Linked DNA regions of Homo sapiens. The protein of the gene in region 3 interacts with the protein of the main gene of each other region in a biochemical or structural test. Each region holds a gene or a part of one and is shown on either strand. Other genes may lie near its edges.

Region 1 (8,244 bases), on a different chromosome or scaffold from region 3:
GAATGAAGGGGAGAGGAAAAGGGCAAATCTCTGGACATTTTTTTTCTGAACATATTTTTATATAATTTAACTCACGCTCTGTATATGATAAACTTTCTCCTCCTCCTTGGGAAGAAACAATAGGCTTGTGTTTTCATCTTAAAAGTGAAGAATATGAGAAAAATGCCTGCCTTTCTCCCATACAGCTTAGATCATTAACTGTGAAAAGAATTTCTGAATTATTCTAGTAGGCTATCTCCAGGGAGCCTCCTGGATTTCCTTGCTAGTGGTCAGGCAGCGGTACAGAGATGCTATATGACATATACCTAGTGCCTCTTATATTGAAAGATTATATACTCATTTAAATATTAATTACTTAATTCACTCGCTACTGAACACTTGTCGTTACTGACATTAGTCAAGTCAGCAAAAGATTAATCTGTAATATCTTATTCCTAGTTTTTGAAGACTTCTAAAATATTCACTGAATTCCAGAGTCTAGAGAGATAAATGGGCTGTTCATATTGTATTGGTGGGACTGAATATCCCTCCTCTGACAGTATATATGCTCTTCTTTTCACTGAGGCCCCTGAGGTGCAGTAGGCATTTGCTGCTTCAGGTAGCATCTCCAGTGTGATCTCTTAACTGACTTTACTAACTAAATTGCACAAGTAGGAACATTCTATTTTCAGGTAACTCTCTCTATTCTGCCTTTGTATAAAAACATCATATTGTGCATTTTCAGCTGGTTCCATTAAATTCAAAGTTAAGGGAAATCCTGTGGGAGTTTTCAGTCTATTGTACATATAGATACTAGCGGTTTTACTCTCACACCATATGACACCACTCATAACATCAGTTACAATTATTTCTTTGAATATAAGTGACATAATAAAGATGAACTCGATAATAGTATTATGCATAACATTTACTTGTATCAGAGAACTTTGGTATTTTTTGATCAAATTATTAACTCTCTTATGAAATATTAAAATGTGACCTGTTGGAAAACACACTGATATTGAACCATGAAAACACAAGTACCCCAATAATAGGGTATAAAATGTTAATACTAGATATAACAGAATTGTAGCTTGCAAAAACTGGCAGCTTATCTACTTGTCTACATAAGAAAAACAATCAATTATATTTTTTTGCATTTTTATTTGTCCATATTCCATCACATCAAATTTGTACATGTTGACATCTTTGATGATAAACTTCTTAGAAATAGGCATTTTGATACATACCATGATACATCTTCCCAAGTTAAAAGATTAGTGTTAATTCTGGGCACTATATTTTAAACACTTTACCAATTTAGTATCAATGGATTTCTTAAATTTATATTATCTACTGGATAGTATTATAGGAAATCTATTTAAACTAAGAAAACATCCACTATTCTAAAAATGAAAAAATTTCTATAGTCAACATTTACTGAAGATTGTCCAATAAAAAGACAAAAAGGCCAAACGTGTCACATAAAATTGAGGACTCCCTTTTTGTTTCTCCTGATAAATATTCTACCTGTACTTAGAAAATACAAGCTTCTGTTCTTTCTACAGTGGGGGACAATTTAAAAGCTTACACAATTGAAAAATGATTCTTATGTAATCCTGAGTATTACATCTGCTATCTGTCTCAATGTGTCAATGGCTAGTGATAATAAATACTTCTTTGCTGACAATTTATTCCGAATTTATATTAAGTCAGCAAAGTCACTTTCTCTGAGCATGGTTTTGTTTATTATTTGTTTGTTTACAGGAGGAATTACCAAACCTATTCATGACTGGCTTGTATTGGTCCTGATGCAAAATCTATCTTTTAATCATTTATTTATGAGTATGATGTTGCTTTACAAGACAATTGTAGAATGAAATATTTAAACATTTGCTGTTAGATCTTCATTAAGGCAATATAAATTTACACTACAAATGCTAGTGAATACTAATACTTTAATCCATATTAGCCATTTTACAAGCATTGTCATAAACTATTTTCCTTTGCCACACATGAAAAAATTCTAATAATCAATTCAACTGGAAAACTAATTTATATTAGTTGTTAATCATTTTAATTACATGATGATGACAGTTATGGGTAGGGCATCATTTTTCTCCTCGGGATTTTTATTTTCTCCTCTTACCTCCATTATGGAAACAAAACAAAACAAAAACAAAAAGAACAAATTGCACCCCTATTTCTATAGCCCTTTCCCAGCATCCTTGTTTCTCATATGCATAAACTGATATTTAAATATCTACTGTTAACTTGGTGGATTCAGCCTCTCAAGGCTATTTTCAACCTGCTTCCTCCCTTCCTGTGTTCCGCGGGCTAGTGAGTGAACTCCTTATTGATAAAATCCAATGTTTACAGACAAAAATAACATCTCTAAGTTGACATGTGATTTTGCACTGTTTTCAGATGAGGTGAGTATGACACATTAATCAGAGGTACTTAGAATTTTAGGTCAGTTTTGCAATAAATTTTTCAGGTGCATTTTAAAGGTCTTTGAAGACCATAAGCCTATGTTAATGTTAAACGACTTTTTTTTTCTTTTTTCTTTTTCTTTTTTTTTTTTTTTAAACAAAAGGATCTGGAAAGGTAACCTACCTTTATGTGACAGGCGTAACCGGGGGTGGGTAGTATCAGCTGTATGACCTCCTGTCCAAAGCTCCAGTAAGTAACCCCACAGGAGCAAGGTGATAATGTGCCCCGCGGATGCCATGCTGCCGTGTTCACCGTCCAAGCCCTCGCTCCTCACTTTAAGGAGGGTCTGAGTTTTACTTAGGACTTCCCTCCAGGGGCAGCGTGCGAGAGGCTTTGTCAGAAATCGAACGCGTTGTCATCAGAAAGCACAGTTCCGAAGTGCCATTTGTCAGGCTGTATTTGGCTATGTAAAACCTTTCTTTCCTCGGGACAGTTGTTTATAAGCCGGGAGCAAGAGGACATTCCAAAGAGTGAGTCTTCAGAGCCATGTCCTGTCTAGAGCGCTCTTCAGCAACTACGCCGGTAGATTCAGGAAGAAGCTGTATTTTTCAGTCACTTGGGCAAAGCTGTTCATTCAGAAAAAAAAAAAAAAAAGAGAGAAAAAAACAAAACCGAGCACACGCACTCCCTTCTCCCGTGGAGGTCCTCTCTTCGGGCTCCTGGAAGCCTCTCAGAAGTCAGCCTCTTGCACTGACTTGCCAAACTGCTAGTTTTAATTCACCTTTCACCTTGCTAATTAAAAACAAGAAGTGCCATTCCCTCTAGGAGTCGCAGGATCCACCCAGCAGGGATGCAGTCTGTCAGTGGCTGTTTACAGGAAAGTTCAGGCAGGGTTGAGCAGCGTACTTGCTGTTTCTAGGAAGTATTTCTGGTCCACGTGCCTCGCTCCCATCCTCCCTCCCAGTCATAACCAGCCCCACGTTACTCAGCAGCAGGAGAGAAGTCCACATTTTGATGGGGGAAATGGGGAGTTCGGGAGGGGTGATGACATAGACTGATTATTTAAGAATAGGTGACAGACAAGGATGTGGCATCAGAAAGCGCTTTTAAATTCTTACCAAGATAAATTGACCTAAGTTGAATAAATCCAACTTCTTTTGAAAATAATCTATTTGTAACCATCCAGAATCCAAATTCTGTTTTTCACTGTTGCCATAAGGTTTTTTTCAAAATTAAGTCTTTTTCTATTGCTTATATCTTAGGGATGTTATTTTTAAACTCTTTTAAGAAAAGTGTGTTTCAAGAGCCTGAAAAAAAAAAGTTCATCTGTGACTGTCTCATAAATTTGATAGAAATGATAAATTATTTACTTAAGCAAATTGGTCAAATGAAATTAAAGGCAAATCCTTTGTCCTAAAGCAATTCCTAAATTTTACTTCAAATTTAGGAATGTTGAAGTAATTTCCCCCAGGTAAGGTAACTGGCAAAGTTGAGATTCACCACCCAAGGGATTTCTATAAAGCAGGTATTAGAAAACTTAGGATGTGCAATACCTTAGGATTCAACTGCTATGGACTTCCAGAGTTGATTTTCCAAGGCACTGTGTTTGTGTAAATAAGCTTAACACAATAGGTCAACTTTACAATCTACCTTCAATCAATCTCAAAAACTAAGCCAAACACTCAGGAGCTGTTGGCATGGAAATGAATGGTATTATGTTAAGATACCAATAAACTTGAATAGATATTTGATTTGATAGTGGAGAGTTAAATGGTAAACACTGATCTCAACTATGATAACTTTTTCTTATTCTGTATTTTAAATGCTAATAGTTAAAAACTTTTTGAGAATTATGTTTTAAAATCACGAAACTATAACAAAAAGATAACATGTGTCACCCTGATATTTTTGCATTATATAGAAGCATATGTACAGCCAGGCATTCTCTACCCATTTTTCTAATCATGAGATGTTCTTGTACAAGCAGAGTATATTTAGCAAAATGTAAATGTCACTGGACATTATAAATAATTAGATTTCCAAGGTCTACAAAAGATAGCAAACTCTAAACATTATTTAACAGTAAAATGACATGAAGTTATTTAGAGACTTTTAACCTGGAATGCTTGCATATTTTAAAAGCCAGTCTGATGAGCTACAGACCTAAAGGTTGCTCTAAATGTGATACATTGTACCTTCAAAATTCTCTTTTGCTTTCTTCTAGGATGGAAACAAATGACAAAATAAATAGCAGCTCTTATATGTGTTATCTAATAGTAGGATTATAGGAAAAGTAAATGTGGTGCCTACACCTTTTATTGCAAATTCATGGCTACTCTCACATAGCTGAAATTCTACTTAAGATTGCATAGTGCCTGTCCTAACTCTACTATAGAACTGAGACAATGTGAGACATTACAATCATTTCATTAGTACACAAAATATGCACCTCTAAAGTGTTGACAAGAGAATATATGTTATGAATGCCAAGATCTGTCTTTGGTTTTACATCTCATCCTTCAGATTAAGTTGGAGCAATTTAGAAGTAAATGCCAGAATAATGGGTTGTTTAGATTCCTCAAAATGTGCTTTGGCTTATCTGCCAGTTGTCAATGTCCTTACTTATTTCTTTTAACTACTCTTTATGTCCTTTTACCTTTATCTTTATCCTATAGAAAATATATAGATGATGCCAAAAAATGACTGTTAAGAAAACTATCTATAGTCTCAGTTTCCCCTATGTGGCATTAGCAATGGAATAAAGAGTCTTTGGGACCAAATTAGTCACTTACATCATAAAATAAAACAAGAAGAATCCTCAGAAGTAGAGTCATCAAATAGCTCATCATCTAAACAAGACTTTTTTTGAGAATAAAAGAGGCTTCTATTCATAATTACACACAAATCAATAATACTATAGACAAATCACAACATCAAAATCTGAATCCTTGGGAGCCATTTCTAGATACTCTTGGGAAACATGGAAATAGAAAATTAAAAACAATAACAACAACTGACTCACCACCAACAGTAAGGGAAGAGCTTTAGTGGACTGAAAAACTTTGGAGTTACCAACAATATCAGGTGATGTTACTGTATTTGATTTGAGAGGATCCAGGCTAGCAGTTTGAACAATATCAGACAACAAGGAAAACCAGGGGAGAAGATAAATGCCAATTAGAAAGGAATTGATTGCCAGGTCAAGGGTTTTATTCCAAAATCTCTCATTCTTGCTAGTCTTACATCATTGTATGAAGAGCAATCTCAGTCTGGTAGAAAAAGGAGAAAAATAAAAAAAGAAAATTGGGTACTCATCAGGAGCTGCAGTCTCCCCCATGATGGGTTCCATCACTGGTTCTCCAATTTCAACAGCAGAAAATCAACTAGCTTCTACAACAAGCCCTCCCAGGAGGCAATCCCATACTATCTGCTGTTGAATCAACCTCAGGTACTTGTTGAAGAACAGCTTGCTATGCCCCACCTCATGTTCCCAGTTTGCCTGAAATTTTACGTTCTAAGATTTGTGTTTGACAGATGTTCCTTTAGGGCAGTGTTACCAAAACATTAGGCATCTGTTTACCACATTCACCATTTTTAGTATAACACATAGTATCTGCAATTAAACTTAAATTAATATAAAATGAAACCATTACCTCATAGGCTTCATGTCCTACTTGTATTTTTCAAATACATGCAAAAACCAAACAGTCGTAAAAGTTTGTTTCTACATGACTTAAAATTATCTTGCATACTGTGGGAGACAGTACCTATCAATATTCCTTCAATATCGTATCATCAATATTCATTCCTGGGTATATGGGAGACTATACTTTCCAGCTCCTTGGCAGTCATGTGAATTCACTTGACTAATTCTAGCCAAGGAAATATGAGCAGAAGTGATATGTATCACATCTGGGCTGAGGCAGTGAAATATTCCTAAGAAATCATTTGGTCTTTCTGAAGCCCTTTCTGTGGCAAAAGAGGAGAACTTACCTTGAAATGGTGGCAGGATGAAATTGAATCATCTTACATTACTGAATCACCACTGGAGACAGCTACCCTAGAAAGTTACTCAGACTCACAAGAGACTTTGTATGAATGGGAGGAAACATGTTATGTTAAGCTACTTAGTTTATTTGTTACCACAGCAGAGCGTAGCCTCTCCTGACTAAATGCACACACTGTACCTACTGTGCTTCAGGGAACATGCTTTTGGACAAACTTAGAGCATTAACAAGTTGCTGATGGGGTATTACGGTGTATTCCATTCTATGTGCCACTAAAACTTACTTCAGCAGAAGTTATTCATACAGACAGGCAGAGATGTGGATACTTGAGGGCCAAGTAAGAGGTAAAGTAATTCCCTGTGCCACTTGTAGAATGGGGTGGAATATGCCTTTAGCTTTTCCAGTTGAACATTTACACAAAAATGATGACATATACATTATTTATAGGTGGACAACATTACACAGTACTACATCTGAAGAACATTATGATTAAAAGCATTAAAAAAAACCAAACTATCAAAATAGCAATAATAATTACCCTTTTTATAACTAAACACAGAAATACATAAATTTTATAAATATATAAGGGCTTAAAATACTTAGATAACATAACTTCTCTGTGGTAGTTATGGCATTTCAGCTTCACTAATCTCTCTTCTATTCCTGCTAGCCCTGCTATCCCAATGACCTCCAGTCTGGAGCACCTCAAATGTCCCACCAATAAGACCTGCTGTTGCTGCTGCTGCCGCCATTGCTGCTTCCGGGTTTTACAGTTCAGGACTGCTAATGCTTTTATTGGTCATTCTATTCAGATGCCTTATATCACAGAATTTGTAAAGGATCTAGAGTCTGGATTGACTGTTTCCCACATTCAGTGATTCAGGCAGATAAGGACAGATAACTACATCACTCCTGATTTGTATGCTGCTAAGCGTAGTCCCGGAGAATGGCATTCCATCAATTAGTACCATATACGATCCAATCATTCACCAATCATTCACCCGCCTGAAAGAGGTTTGGCTAATGTTATTTTGATGTTATCATTTGGATGGCTGACAATCCAATAAGTTGGCCTAGTATTTTTCCATTTTTGACCAGCTATTCTAAAAAGCAAAAAAGACTCATAAAATTTTAATGAAATTGCTCTCATAAAATTTTAAAATTCTTTGTTTCCAAATTATACTAGGTTTATTCTCATTTTCTTTTAGGTCTTTAATAATAAAGAAAAGCAGAATAAGCATTTGGAGCCAATATAAGCTTTAATGAACTTTAATCAAAGAGCAGTCATGATTTGCATGCCTTTTCATGGCAAAATGAAATGATTAATTCTGAAAATTCTATAATATACAGGCCCTGGGAGGTTTTCCTATACTCTTCCTTATAGGTTATAGAGAATTCCTTAAAGAGACAGAACTCCAATCAGTTGCTTTAAAAAATCTAACATTCTATTAAAAAAAAAAATCTGACATTCTGAAAAAACACTTCTATAATATGTTATAATTGATGGGTTTCTATGTCTTTTGTTATACATATTTGTGAGTTACTGGTGGCACCAGTGGTGAATTGGTTATAATATGTTACTATTAATCTCAATATCTAGCACTATACTCCAAACTGATTCCACTTTAAAATGAATAAAAATAATGATTACTGTTAACTTTTTGTTTTCTATATGCTAGGCAGCATGCAAGGCATATTCATATAAAATCCAATTAAACCTAGAAAATCACTCGATGCAATAGGTACCATTTTTATTGTCACTTACACAAAACAGAATGTAGGACACAGATGTCAGTAACTTAGTTAGTTGGTTAACTGCTTAGTT
Region 2 (7,000 bases), on a different chromosome or scaffold from region 3:
CAGGGATAAAGAGTGTGGGCTGGGAGTGAAGAGGGGGCCGGCAGCTACCCTGGGCTTGGCTGCCTGTGCATGAATAACTTAGTTGCTGTTATCTGTAATCAGCAGTTCTCTTTATATGTATATCGTGACAATATAACAGACAGGAAATGTCGTGGCCTCACTTTTTTTTTTTTTTTTGAGATGGAGTCTTGCTCCGTTGCCCAGGCTGGAGTACAGTGGCACGATCTTGGCTCACTGCAACCTCCGCCTCCCAGGTTCAAGCAATTCTCCTGCCTCAGCCTCCCAAGTAGCTGGCACTAGCATGCACCACCATGCCAGGCTAATTTTAATAGAGACGAGATTTTACCATGTTGGCCAGGCTGGTCTCAAACTCCTGACCTCAGGTGATCCGCCTGCCTCAGCCTCCCAAAGAGTTGGGATTACAGGCGTGAGCCACCGCACCCGGCCTGTGACTTCACTCTTCACTGGTATTGTGAATAGTGATTGAATAATATTAATTGCAAAAATGGCTGATATGGAAATCATTGACATATGAGATAAACACTGACTCAAATTATATCAATAATTTGATATCTACCCACTAGTAGAAATCACTGATGCTTCTGTGTCTTTTTTTTTTTGAGATGGAGTCTCACTCTGTTGTCCAGGCTGGAGTGCAATGGCGTGATCTTGGCTCACTGTAACCTCTGCCTCCTGGGTTCAAGCAATTCTGCCTCAGTCTCCTGAGTAGCTGGGATTACAGGCGCCCGCCACTAGGCATGGCTGATTTTTCTGTTTTTAGTAGAGACGGGGTTTCACCATGTTGGTCAGCCTGGTCTCGAACTCCCGACCTCAGGTGATCCATCCGCCTCAGGCTTTCTAAGTGCTGGGATTACAGGTGTGAGCCACTGTGCCTGGCTGCTTCTGTCTTAGTCGCCCTATTAATGGGAACAATGTGAGGAAGGAAGGAAGAAAGGGAGAGAAGGCACTAGCAATATTAGCAATCACCTCCATGGTTCATGTATCCTGATGTGTAGTCTGCTGACCACCTGCACATATGAGATGCTGGTTAAAAATGCAGATTCTCTAAGGCGTGACCCAGGAACCAACTTGTTAAACAATTTCCCCAGGAAATGTGCGGTTTGACAACTGCTGCCATATATACCATTCATCGTGTTAGGTGTTTTGTATATGCCACCTGGTTGTATCTGCCAGTAGCCTATGAAATTGACCAAGATCTCTCAGTCAGGAAATAGCCAAGTCTAGATTTAAACTTGGGTCTGTCTGATTCCTTAGGCTGTGTTCAACTATGGAGCTATGTCTGATACCAGTATTATTCAAGTAATAGCCATGGTCACAAACTGATGTTATTACTGCCCATCAGCATGTCACTAACCACCATGTCTGCTGGTTATTTCACATCAGAGCAGAGAAGGGAGGCAGGTCACAGCTAGAACTGAGGACCTTATTTCTTTTCATCTCGCCCTCCCAACTCCCCACTTTCAGATACCGTGGCCAGCCAGTGACAGAAAAAAGAGTGAATGTGCCTTTAAGAAGAAGAGCAATGAGGTAAGTGGAGGTGGGGGAGTAGGGGTAGAGTGGGTAGAGAGCTCTGGCATCCCTAGACCATCCCTGGATGACCTCAGGTTGGGCGGCAGTGGAGGGCACTTGTTTGCACGGTTATCTCCTGGATTATGTTCTACAGAGGCGTACAGGGACTGCCCCAGCATTACCTAGCCTTTCTCCTCAGTGAGGGGGCAGCCTCTGGGGGTCCAGCAATTTGAGTCAGGTGGCCTGGAGACCTAAATTCTCTGTCTCCCTCAGACACAGTGTTTCAACTTCATCCGTGTCCTGGTTTCTTACAATGTCACCCATCTCTACACCTGCGGCACCTTCGCCTTCAGCCCTGCTTGTACCTTCATTGTGAGTTCTCTGGTGCCCAGCGCTCAGGCCCCCAAGCATCCCTTCTCACATCTACCCACGACTTTCCTCTGTAGCTCTGGAAAACTCTGGCCTTCCAGATGCAGGACCCTCATGAACTTCCTGGCCCCAGACCAATTTCCCTCTATGTCCCTTTCCCTTCCTTCCTCAAGCCCCTCATTTCCCAGATGTGAGACCTTGGCGTTCTGGCCCCCCAGCCTCTCTCCCCATTTAGGAACTTCAAGATTCCTACCTGTTGCCCATCTCGGAGGACAAGGTCATGGAGGGAAAAGGCCAAAGCCCCTTTGACCCCGCTCACAAGCATACGGCTGTCTTGGTGGGTGAGTATCAGGTTTCCCACTTCATCCCAACATCTACTTTCTCCAGTCACGCTGTGAAATATGGAATATTACAGAGTTTTCCAAAAGGCAGGGGAAACTGGGTGTGGTGATGCGTGCATATGGTCCCAGTTATTTGGAAGCTGAAGTTGAAGGATGCTTGAGTTTAGGGGTTTGAGTCTAGCCTGGGCAACACAGCGAGATCGTCTCAAAAAAAAAAAAAAAAAGCCTCAGTGCCTCATGCCTGTAATCCTAGCAGTCTAGCAGTTTGGGAGGCTGAGGTGGGTGGATCATGTGACCCCAGGAGTCTGAGACCAGCCTGGTAAACATGGTGAAACCCCATCTCTACTAAAAATACAAAAATTATCCAGGCGTGGTAGGGCGCACCTATGGTCCCAGCTACTCGGGAGGCTGAGTCACAAGAATTGCTTGAACCCAGGAGGTGGAGGTTGCAGTGAGCCAAGATCGCGCCACTGCACTCCAGCCTGCGCAACAAAGCAAGACTCTGTCTCAAAACAAAACAAAACAGAAAATGCAGAGGACAGAGAGAGAGAGGGAAGCCAGAAGCCTCAGAACACAAGATCAGAGGGAGAATTAAGCACCCCAACCACCAGCTCCTGCTGAAATTGCCACAAAAAGTGGTGGAGAAAGATGCATGTGGAGAGACAGAGGCACGAGGGCCCGGGAAGGGTATTGGGTAGAGAAGAGGCCTGAGACTGAGCCACTGTTCAACAATTGTGTGAACACTTCCTCTGGTGTACTGGGCACTGTGCTGGGTAGTATAGGAGTTATAAACAAGAAATCAGGCTGGGTGCAGTGGCTCACACCTGAAATCTCAGCACTTTAGGAGGCTGAGGCGGGTGGATCACTTGAGCCCAGGAGTTTGAGACCAGCTTGGGCAATAGTATAGTGAGACCTCGTCTCTACTAAAAACAAAACAAAACAAAAACAACAACAACAAAATTAGCCGGACAAGCGCCTGTGATCCCAGCTACTTGGGAGGCTGAGGTGGGAGGATCGCTTGAGATGGTCAAGGCTACGGTGAGTTGTGATGGCACCACTGCACTCCAGCCTGGATGTGAGCAAGACCCTGTCTTGAAAAAAAAAAAAAAAAAAAGGGAGAGAGAAACCATGTATCAATGCACTACTGGACACCAACCATTACAGACTTCCCACCTGCCTTCCTGGAGGAGATGGCCTTCGGCTTTTCAGCAGGACCTTGAAAAGATAGGTAGACAGATGGCAGGGAAGGTGTTCCAGGGAGAGAAGGGTAGGACCCAAGGTGTGGAAGTGGAAAACACAGTCACCTTCCAGGATCAGTAAGTGATTCTACTTGGCAAGTGGTTCAGCTAGGTATGTGACGAAGTAGCCACAGAAAGGCTGGAAAAGTGCCCAAACACGGAGGGCCACACAGGATGGCCATTTCCTGTGGAGAGAGGAAGCTAAGAGGGGTGCTTAGTGAGGAGGGGGAGCTGGCCTTTGAGGCTCCCCAGGAAGGTGCAGAACTGATGCAGGGCCCCCGAGACTGATATGGATGCCAGCCCCAGTCAGAGGCAGGTCTGTGGAGGGCAGAGGAACCCTCCACCCCATCAGTTCTCTCTTCTCCTCTCCTCCACCCTAGATGGGATGCTCTATTCTGGTACTATGAACAACTTCCTGGGCAGTGAGCCCATCCTGATGCGCACACTGGGATCCCAGCCTGTCCTCAAGACCGACAACTTCCTCCGCTGGCTGCATCGTAAGGACCTGACCCCCGCTGGCCTCCTTTCCTGAGTCCTGGTGACCTTGCTAATTCACTCAACTTTCATTTGCGGAAGGTACAATGTGTCCATTACTGTTAGGCGCAGGGGGTATATGGCAGGGAAGAAGGCAAAGCTCCGGTTCTCTTGAAGCTTTCGTCTTATGTAAACACATTAAAGAAGTACCAGTCATCCCCACCCCACATCGCTACCCCTCGACAAGCTGTGGGACCCGAGGAAGCCTGTGTGTCCTGGCCTCCAGGGCCAAACCAACGGTTTTCACTCAGGCAAACCCAGGGCATGCAGGGGCTCAGTCCCTAAGCCCATCTGCCCCTCCCCCGCAGATGACGCCTCCTTTGTGGCAGCCATCCCTTCGACCCAGGTCGTCTACTTCTTCTTCGAGGAGACAGCCAGCGAGTTTGACTTCTTTGAGAGGCTCCACACATCGCGGGTGGCTAGAGTCTGCAAGGTCCGCGGCCTGGGCGGGGGGCGGGGCTAACTGGAGGAGAACCAATAGGGAGATGGCAGGGGCAGGACTGAGTGGTGGGCCCCCAGTGAGAGCGGGGGAGCGGGGCGGGGAACAAGCGGGCCTGGCGGGGTGGGGCGGGGGACAGCGGGGCTGGGCGGGTGGGGCGGGGGACAAGCGTGGCTGAGGGGGCGGGGTGGGGACACGCGGGGCTGGCGGGGACTGGGGGGACACGCCGAGCTGCGGGGGGCGGGGAGGACACGCGGGGCTGGGGGGTCGGGGCGCCCGGGGCGCCCCCTGACTCCCCCTGTGCCCCCAGAATGACGTGGGCGGCGAAAAGCTGCTGCAGAAGAAGTGGACCACCTTCCTGAAGGCCCAGCTGCTCTGCACCCAGCCGGGGCAGCTGCCCTTCAACGTCATCCGCCACGCGGTCCTGCTCCCCGCCGATTCTCCCACAGCTCCCCACATCTACGCAGTCTTCACCTCCCAGTGGTGAGCAGCAGGGCTGGACCATGGGGGCTGGACACGGGACTTGACGCCAGTGAGGCCCCAGCTCGTGAGCGGAGGCAGGAATTGACATGAGCCAGCACCTACTCAGCACTTTCACATAGGAAGGCATTAAATCGTCACCACCTCTCAGGAATTTGACTCATGCCCTTTTTGTAAATGGGAAAAATAAGACGCAGAGAGGTTCTAACTAGTTTATATTCTGCCTAGTTCCAAAAGGGATAGGAAGCATTTTACAAAAGGCAAATATTAAAATCGATAAAATAGATACAGAAATGGGAATAAAAGGAGAATATGAGAAGCCAAGGGTAAGGCCAACACACTACAAATGCTTGTCATAAGATGTAGGATAGTCCCTGGATGCCAGCCACAAATTTAGCTCTGCATTTCCTAATGGCCAGGGCAAACAGGGAAACGCTATCCGTATCAGAAGATAAAAATAAAGTCGGCCGGGTGCGGTGGCTCATGCCTGTAATCCCAGCACTTTGGGAGGCCGAGGTGGGCAGATCACGAGGTCAGGAGATCAAGACCATCCTGGCCAATATGGTGAAACCCCGTCTCTACTAAAAACACAAAAATTAGCTAGGTGTGGTGGCGCATGCCTGTAGTCCCAGCTACTCGTGAGCCTGGGGCAGGAGGATCCCATGAACCCGGGAGGCGGAGGTTGCAGTGAGCCAAGATCGCACCACTGCACGCCAGCCTGGCAACACAGTGAGACTCCGTCTCAAAAAAAATAAATAAAAATAAAGTCATTGCTTGAAGGTTGAGAAAGGTTAACCAATTTGTCCAAGGTCCCCGAGTCATGGTCTGGCCCCACAGTGTTTAGGTACCTGCTGACAATGTGTCAGGTACCAAAGGTATTTGGGGTAAGTGGGATCTGGTATCCACAGGATCCAGAATTGAGAGCCTGGTGTATACAGTAGTCAGCTTCAAGAGAGCAGAGAAACAGACCTCCTGTCTCCACAGACCAGGGTTGAGGAATAATAACAGTCTGGTAGTCAGGCACTGGTCGGTTCTCTGAGGACCAGGGATCCAAGAGACTCAAAGGAAGAGGGGTTTGTGTGGAGCCAGGCTAGAGCTGGTTACACTGTCCCTCCAATGGGTGCAGCCCAGTGTAGGCAGGACAGGCAGGGGCCACCCCAGGGCCTGAGCCCCAATTAATTCTCATTAAGGATAATCAGACTTCAGATCCCAAGATGGGCCTAGAGCCAGGCCCTGGGCCAGAGTCAGGGAATTCCATGGGGCTCCCTTGGCCCTTATCAACACAGTGAGGGGAAGGAGTGGTAGCTGGAGGCTGGCCCAGCTCTCCACACTCTTGCCTCCTGGGTTTTCTCACTGAGGGCCAGCGCTGGAGAGAGAGCTGCTGGTGTGGCAGAGACCACAGACAATGTTCCCTCTGGCTGTCTCCAGGCAGGTTGGCGGGACCAGGAGCTCTGCGGTTTGTGCCTTCTCTCTCTTGGACATTGAACGTGTCTTTAAGGGGAAATACAAAGAGTTGAACAAAGAAACTTCACGCTGGACTACTTATAGGGGCCCTGAGACCAACCCCCGGCCAGGCAGTGTGAGTACTACCCCCCACACTGAGCACAGTCTACACATACATAATGTGCATGAAAAAACACCTATCATGGCATAGTAAATGCCCAATAAATGTTAGTGCTCTCCACCCCACCAATCTCGCCTGCTCAGACGTACACCTGGTATAGCTGCCTATATTCCACATGTGCCTAGCACCCTTTTATACACGGAGCAGTTGCTGGAGCCATCTCCCTTCACCAAGGCTAAGTGTACACCAAATATCTGGGTATATCACTATGGAAACAAGGGAACATGCGCTGTGTGCCAAGGACTGTCTTGGGCATTGCCACCTGCATTTATTTAACTTTTTAAAAAAATCAGAGGCCAGGGCCGGGTGTGGTGGCTCACACCTGTAATCCCAACACTTGGGGAGGCCGAGGCAGGTGGATCACTTGAGGTCAGGAGTTTGAGAACAGCCTGGCTAACATGGTGAAACCTCATCTCTACTAAAAATACAAAAATTAGCCAGGCAT
Region 3 (7,931 bases):
CACAGATCAGCTTACACCAAAGGGCCGAGACACAGGGCCTGAAACTACTGGAGGAAGGCCCTCAGTCCACAGGACACTTCTCTCCATTCAGCGACTCCCCACTGAGACCCCCAGTGCCAAACACAGTTGCCTGCGAGATGAAGCTCTGGGGTGGAGATGGTGGATGAACCAACCATGGCACAGGGCAAGCAGCCCCACCACCCTTTGGACTGTCTGCCCTGCTCACCCACCGTGACCTTTACTTTCAGGGTGGCCGGCCAGATGGTGGGCAGTCGTGGGAGACCGACCTCGACCTTGGGAGAAGGAATCTGCATTTTCTCAAAGCCCCAGTGTTGGGCCCGCCCACAGAGGAATGGTTAATCTCATGAAATTCTTGTCACAGCCATGGAGAAGGGACAGGGTGGGGCCCCAAGGAAGGCTTGGGTCACCACAAGAAGGCTGAGTTCTGCATTTTGCTGATGGAGATGCAGCTTCCTAAGGGAATGGCAGGCAGTGGAGCTGAAGTGGGCTCGCCAGACTCAGATGGGTGGAGGGTGTGGGAAAGGCCCCAGTGTCATTCTGGGGCCTCATTCCTCAGGGTGAACTATGGGGATCAACAGACCCAGCTCCCAAAGCCAGTGTGAGGAGCAATCCCTTGCCATGAACTTCCTTTCAGGGAACCACACCAAGTCCCCTCCCGCACCCTTGTCATGTCAACACACATGCTGATTCCGTCAACCTGGCCCCCCTTGCTACTGCCCAACCCAGCCTCAGACACCTGGGCCCCATGCCTGCCTGTACTCCTCCTCATTCCCCACTGAGCCCCACGGCCCTCTCCTGCCCCCAAAACACCCCTGTTCACATCCCTCCATTCTCCTGGCCCTGGCATCTGCCCACCCCAGCTGCCTGGGACGCCCCCAAAACACACGCACTCTGAGATCCAAGTCCAGAAGGCAGCAAAGGCTGGGCATTAAAAACACAGATGCTGAGGCCAGACAGGCTGGATTCAAATCCACCTCTGCTAGTGCCCAACTGTGTGATCCTCAGCAAGTTGCTTAACCTCTCTGTGCCTGTTTCTTCATCTGTAAAATGTGATGAGAATAGAGGCTACCTGAGAGGGTTGTTCTGAGAACTGGGAATTGTGACATGTGATGCCCCTAGCTGGCACTCCACAAGTGCTATTGTTTACCCCAGACTCCCACACCTGGTACATACTAGGTGCTCAGGAAATATTTGCAGAATAGGTGAATAAAAGTTGGCCTCAGGCACACACCTGTTTGCCAACCATGCAGCCTCCTCAGAGTACCGACTCATGCCCAAATACCTGCGTCCCCTGCCACGCACATCCCACTGCACACCTAGCCCTGTCCCGTTGTACCAGTGTCTGTGCAGTACACCTGTCTGCCCTGTGCGTCTTCAGGCCCCAGCTTGCTGGCACACAAGTCCATGCAGACATCTGCAGGGCCCTGGTGCACACCTGTGTGCCTCCTTGCACACCTGCCACACCCATGCACCCATCACCAACGTGCAATGGTAACTCTGACAGGCTCACGCAGTGGCCCCAGAACACAACTTTGGTCAGGCATGCAGTCACTTACTGCGCCCTCAGCATGCACCTGTGACCCTCACGTGCATACCTGGGCTTTATGCGCACCTGGGTACCTGTGGCAACTTGGACCCCTCCCAGTACGCCTAGGTATGCGCGCCCATGAGCCGGCACTCACTTGAGTCCCTGCACATGCCCACCTGGGCCATACAGGCGCCAGTAGTACCCCTCGGGGGACACCTGTATTCTCGCGTGCACACCTGGGTTCCACGTACATCTGGATCTCTGCGCGCTCCCACCTGTGACCCACTCAGCTCACGACCCGCTCGGTTCCCGCCCGCCCCCGCCCCCGCCCCCGCCGCCGCCGCCGCCGCCGCCGCCGCCACCGCCCGGGTGTACCTGGATGTTGAGCTTGCGCTCACAGGCCGGTCCCGTGCCCTGCACCACGCTGTCGAGCACCGCCACCACGTCGGGCGCCGGTTCCACGAAGCAGGCGGTGCGCGCAGCTCGGATGGCGGCTCGCACGTCGGCGAAGCGGAAGGCGCAGAGTGCGGCCGGAGCAGCGCGGGCCGCGGGGGACCCCTGGGGCCGCTCGAAGACAGCAAAGAGCCGCTCCCGGGCTGGGAAGACCGACACCAGGCGGCTGTAGAGGTCGCCGCGGCCCGCGCCGCCCGCGCACTGCAAGCCCAACTGGATGTAGGACTCGGTGAGCTTCTTGGCGTCGCCGCCGGCGCCGTGGGGCAGGCAGATGCGCGCCAGCAGGCTCCGCGCCTGGCTCTCCTTGTCGCCCGCGCGCGCCTCGCTGTTGAGCGCCAGGTACGCGTAGGACTGTGCACCCGGCGGCGGGTCGGACGGGTGCAGGAAGGCGCTCACGAAGCCCAGCTTGTGCTGCTCCTTGGCGCCCTGCTTGATCTTGAGGATGTTGTCGTCGGAGGGGTTGAGGTCGAAGGTGAAGAGCTTGGCCAGGTCGCCGCGCGTGTCCAGGGAGCGGATGGCGATCTCGGGCGTGTTCTCGAAGCGGTGGTCCTCCAGGCTGCGGTTGCGCGGGAAGAAGGAGCTGCCGTAACCGGTGTACGTGGCGCCCACGAGCAGGCGGCTGCCCCCCGCGCCCGCGGCGGGAGGCAGAACTAGCCCCACGGTGGACGCGTTCGGGTGGTTGGCCGCCACGTTCAGCATGCTGGGGAACACCGTGACGGGCTCGGCGGGCGGCGCGGCGGGCGGGAAGCGCACGGCCACGGCCGAGATGTTGCCCCGGCGCCGCAGCTGGCAGAAGCCCTGGTAGATGGACCCGCACACGACTACCAGGCCCTGGCCGGGGTCCAGCTGCAGGATCTTGTTGTAGTTGTCCGTGAGGCGCCGCGGGTGCTCGCACGAGGCCTGCGGCAGCTGCGGAGCGTGACACAGCGGGCTGTCGGGCACCGGGCCCACGGCCGCCTCGGCCTCCAGGCTCAGGTTGGCGCCCGACAGCTGATAGAGGCGGTTGACGGCCGCCAGGTACACGGTCCCCGCCGCGCCGTCCAGGGCGAAGTTGTTGGTGGGCGTGGGCGAGGGGAACCGACGCTGGATCTCCAGGGCGCCGGCCCGCGCCGCCCCCAGGAGCAGCAGCAACAGCAGCGGCACCGGGCACCGCGGCGGCGTCTGGAACGGCGGGGGGCTGGCGGCGGCGGCCCGGGCGCTAAGGGGTGCGCCGCCCGCGGCGCGAGGAGCCATCCGGGCGTGCGCGGGCTGCGCGGCGCGGCGAGTGCATGGGGCGAGGCGCGGCCGGGAGCCGGGAGCCCGGAGGCGGCGGGAGGCGGGGGGCGGGCCCGGGCCGCGATGCGCTTCCTGCCCGCGCCAGCCGCCCCCGACCCCGGCGCCCGGGCCCGGGTCAGCCTCGCCGCGCAGCCCGGGGGCGGGGCGGGGGCGGCTCCGCTGCGGACACGCCCTCACTCCCCGCCCCGGCCCCGCCCGCCCCCGGGACCCCCGCCTGCCCCTGGCCGCCCTGGGCCACGCCCCGCCGTCCGCGGGTCCCGCCGCCCGCGCCCTCCAGGACCCGCCCGCGGCCCCAGGGTCCCTCCCCGTAGCCGCCGCCGCCGTCGCTCGCTCTCCTCGCTCTTTCCTCCCACTTGGCCGCTTGGCCTGCCTCGCTCGCGCCTGTTTTCTCTTTTCCGCCCTCTCCCCCACCCCGTCTCTCCCTCTCTCTGCGTCTCTCGGTCTCTGCGTCTCTCCGTCTCTGTCCCCACCCCAAACTCCGCGCGTGTGGCGCTTCTCCGGGTTCTGCCTCTGCTTCTCCTTCTCCCTCCGACTCCGCTTCGCTCTCCAGTCCCTGGCAGCCCCGCCCCCGGCCCTTTCTAGTCTCCTTCTCTCTCCTGCTCCGTTTTTCCGTCCCTGACGCTCGCTCCCTCTCTCCGTGGCTCCCTCTGCCTCCCCCTCGGACCCTCCGTCCCTCTCTCGGTCCCTCTGAGCTCCCCTTTCCTTCTCCCTCTGCCTTCCCGAACCCTGTGTCTCCCCTCCACACTCAGCCTCCCTCCACCACCTTTCTCAGGCACTGTCCAGGCCTTCGCTCCCCCGGTGCCGGCCAGTCGGGCCCCCCAGACCCCATAATCTGTCCCCCAAACCCCAGACCCATAAAAGGGATTTACAAGTGGCAGGGCCAGAGGGACCAGTGCTCAGGGTCAGATATATAAATGAGGAAAACATGGAGAGAGGAAATAGTTCCAGCCAGTGGCCCACAACCGATAGCCAGAGCAAGGCCTTGGTCCTGGAGCCCACAGTTGCCTCCTGTGGAGACCCAGCCGCACCCCCACCCCTGGCACCCCCGCCAGGCACTTTCCCTGACATCCTCCCAGGCTTAGTGGAAGATTAGTCCCACAAAAGCCGGCACTGGGCAGGGTTCTTGATCTCAAAAGCAGCGTTAGGGGCAGGCAGCCTGGTTCCAAGGTCACAGCCCTGTGAGGACCATGCGCCGTGGCTGTTTTGCGGGGGTGCTCACACAGGGCTAGCCCGTGCCAGACACTGTGCCAAGCACTTGCCATGTACGGGCTCTCTTTTTCCTCACAGATTCCCCCGAGGCGAGCGCTATTGGTAACCCATCTTCCAGATATGGAAACCAAGGCTGAGGGGAAGGGACTGGCCCAAGATGCACAGCTCATGAGGAGCAGAGCTACAGTGTTTGAAAGCAAAAGCCCTTCAGCTCCGACCTCTCAGAACGGGGCCTCCCATCAGACCCCCAGCTTCCACAGGGTGCCCGGTGGGCCTCACTCTGAGAGTAGCGGGACCTCATTTTCCTCTTTCCCACCCAACCAGGAAGGAAGGGCAGGGGTGTCTGTGCACCATGGGGCCGGCAGGAAAGGCTGGGCCTGCAGCCGCCCCCCACTTCCCTCAACACCCTCGCCTTCCTGCCATCCTGCCCGCCTTGTTCCAGACCCCTCAGCCCTGGTCTGGCCACTGCTTTGATGGCCGGGAGTGTTGAGCTGCAGGAAATTGGAGGCCCCCTCCCAGGCCCATCCACCCACCAAGAGCCACTCAGGGGACTGCCCGTGGGACTGTGTCCCTGTCTTCCTCTCTGGATGGAGAAGGCGCACATCGTGCCACCCGTGGGGGCCAACTGCAGAGCCCAGCAGGGGTGCATGGGGCCTGCCTCCATGCCCCTCCTCCTCACTCACATCCTCAGTGCCCCCACCCCAGTCCATCCGCTGGTCTCTCTGTCTTATCTCTCTCTCTCCTGCCCCCACCCATCTCTGTTCCTATCTGTCTTGCTCCTCCCGTTCACTCTCTTTGTCTCTCCTTCTCTCAGTGTCTTGCCCCCTTCCCTTTCCACTCTTCATCTGTCTCTCTGTGTCTCTATCTCTGTCTCTCTCTCTGTCTCCCTCCCTATCCCTCACCCCCACTCCCTCTCCAGCCCCTCCTCTCTTCCTTCCTGTCTCCCGCTCATCTGGTTCATCTTGCTGCATCCTGCAGCTCCCCCCACTGAGCCGTGAGGATAATGCTCAGTGTTGTCTTAGACCAGCCTGTGGTGATGATCCTGGGCACTTGGGACACAAGCTCCCTGCCAAGCTGAGCAGTGGGGTTTAGGAGCTCTCTAGGTGAAGGGTATTCGGGTCTGAGTATCCTCACATCAACTGGAGGTGAGAAGTGCTGTGTGGTCTTGTGCAAGGCACTCACCCTCTCTGAGCCTCAGTTTCCTCAACTGTAAAATGAGGACAATCGTAGCAGAACACCTGCCCCTGGGAGGGTGTGAGATGGAGAATATAACATAACAGGTGTCAAGCACAACAAGGCTCTTAGCAAACACCAGTTTCTCCCCGCCTTGTGGCAGTGAACCATGACCCCTGAAGCCCATGTTAGAGCCAGGAGTTGGGGTGGGGGGCATTGCAACTAAAGACCAGGGCTCCACCTCCTGTCCTGAGCCCCAATGTGGCTAGCAGAGCCACCAGACGGTGAGAGTGAATCCTGTGCCCAGCACTGCCCTACCAGATCTTACACCATCCTTGCAGCCAGCTGACTAGGCTGTGGTCAGCAAACCCATTTCACAGATGGGGAAACTGAGGGGCATTAGCAAGGTAAGGATTGAAACCCAGATCTGGCTCCACATCTTATGATTTCTCCCTTCTACCCATTAGCTGGGAGCACCATCAGGCCAGGATGGCTCATGGTGGCAGCCCCTATACCCCTGGCTGGGCAGAGGAGGTGCTGACAATTACTGGCTGAATGAATGAATAAAGGAAGGAACAAACCACACCTTCCCTGGCCTTACTAAGATGCAATGAGGTGTTCTTCCAGAGGGAATTTTGGAGGGAACCAAGGGGAGATGAAAGGTACTCAGGAGTGGGGATTAGGTGGGACCCAGCAATAACTAACTTGGAATGAACTAACCCAGAATAGCCAGACCTAGTTGGTTATTCACACTGCAATTTGGGCCTTTTTCAGTTTTTGTTCAAGTCTGATTATATCAAGGAAAAGGTCTTGGTTTGAGGCTAACATGTCTTTAATGACTGTAACATTTGTCACTGTCTCTTTTTAATAGAGAGAAGGTCTCAAACTCAGGGCTGTTGACATCAGCGTGCTAGAATGTACTGATAGCGCTTTGTTTTCTTTGTACTTGCCGTTACTTTCTGGTTTTGGCAAGTGCTACTGGTTTTCCATGTACAGTAATGATGTAAAGCTTCCTTGATAAATGCATTGATTGAAGTCCTTTAAAAGTGAGTTAAAGACAAATGTGAAATAGGTGATAATCCAGATGCCACCAAAATGCCTGAAATTTGGGAAATGTCCAGCAGTGCCTTTGAAGACGAGGACCTGGTGGCCGAGTCAGGGCAGTCTTGCTTGGGGCACGGTGGTCAACGGCTATGCTGGCTCGGAGAAGGCGGGCCTGGGCCTTCCACCCCACTGGGTGGGCTTCCCACCCTGTCCTGTCCATTCTCACCTCTGACTGCCCAGGGCAGAGCTGTGAGGAGACAGAGGAAATGTTTTTCTTCTTCAATTGGAAAAAATAACAGTGGGGCCAGGGTTGCGCTGGGAGGAGGGGGCTCCTGCCCTCCCGTCCCTTGGGCCTGGCCTCTGAGAACGTTTCCTTGCAGGAAATGCCCCTGCAAGGTTAATGCTTTAGAGCACCGCCTCAGCCACAGGAAGGTGCTGGAAACAAGAGTCCTAGGGACGGCTTGGCAATCCAGCCATGGGCCTAGGTGGTGCCGGGAGCCATCACTGCTGCTTCTCGGGGGCTGGACCCGTCTCATTTCCCCGTGGGAGCAACCCTGCGGGGGGGGTCTTAGCAACCCCCCTTTTTTTTAAATTATACTTTAAGTTCTAGGGTACATGTGCACAACGTGCAGGTTTGTTACGTTTGTATACAGGTGCCATGTTGGTGTGCCGCACCTATTAACTCGTCATTTACATTAGGTATATCTCCTAATGCTATCCCTCCCCCTCCCCCCACCCCACGACAGGCCCCAGTGTGTGATATTCCCCATCCTGTGTCCAAGTGTTCTCATTGTTCAGTTCCCACCTATGAGTGAGAACATGCAGTGTTGGTTTTCTGTCCTTGCGATAGTTTGCTCAGAATGATGGTTTCCAGCTTCATCCATGTCCCTACAAAGGACATGAACTCATCCTTTTTTATGGCTGCATAGTATTCCATGGTGTATATGTGCCACATTTTCTTAATCCAGTCTATCATTGATGGACCTTTGATCAACCCACTTTTGCAGATGGGGACACTTAAGGTCAGAGTGGTGTGCCACTGGCCTGCAGCTGCACAGCCTCCAGGCGTCCAGGCCCTGCTCTCAGCCGCTGCATCCCTGCGCCCCTTGCTTGGGGCTGAGAGGCCTGACCCTAACCATCTGCATGACCACGGCGGCGCCACTGCTTCTTGGTCCTCAGTTTCCGTATCTGGAAAGAGGAGCATGATCTGCCTCCGTGGGCCGCTGTG

The links.
Region 1: the proteins of PLXND1 (region 3) and SEMA3E interact in a biophysical measurement, tested with the Homo sapiens proteins (one study listed by IntAct).
Region 2: the proteins of PLXND1 (region 3) and SEMA4A form a complex in vitro, tested with the Homo sapiens proteins (2 studies listed by IntAct, with this or other methods).

Annotation. Positions count from the first base shown.
Region 1 is NC_000007.14:83,645,833-83,654,076, forward strand, and holds the start of SEMA3E (semaphorin-3E isoform 1 precursor), read right to left. Parts: upstream 3,308-8,244; 5' UTR 2,711-3,307; coding exon 2,596-2,710; intron 1-2,595. UniProt on the Homo sapiens protein: Plays an important role in signaling via the cell surface receptor PLXND1. Mediates reorganization of the actin cytoskeleton, leading to the retraction of cell projections.
Region 2 is NC_000001.11:156,156,585-156,163,584, forward strand, and holds part of SEMA4A (semaphorin-4A isoform 1 precursor), read left to right. Parts: intron 1-1,485; coding exon 1,486-1,548; intron 1,549-1,803; coding exon 1,804-1,902; intron 1,903-2,117; exon of another isoform or gene 2,118-2,134; coding exon 2,135-2,240; intron 2,241-3,858; coding exon 3,859-3,975; intron 3,976-4,320; coding exon 4,321-4,445; intron 4,446-4,761; coding exon 4,762-4,934; intron 4,935-6,359; coding exon 6,360-6,510; intron 6,511-7,000. UniProt on the Homo sapiens protein: Cell surface receptor for PLXNB1, PLXNB2, PLXNB3 and PLXND1 that plays an important role in cell-cell signaling. Regulates glutamatergic and GABAergic synapse development.
Region 3 is NC_000003.12:129,603,405-129,611,335, forward strand, and holds the start of PLXND1 (plexin-D1 precursor), read right to left. Parts: upstream 3,273-7,931; 5' UTR 3,236-3,272; coding exon 1,925-3,235; intron 1-1,924. UniProt on the Homo sapiens protein: Cell surface receptor for SEMA4A and for class 3 semaphorins, such as SEMA3A, SEMA3C and SEMA3E. Plays an important role in cell-cell signaling, and in regulating the migration of a wide spectrum of cell types.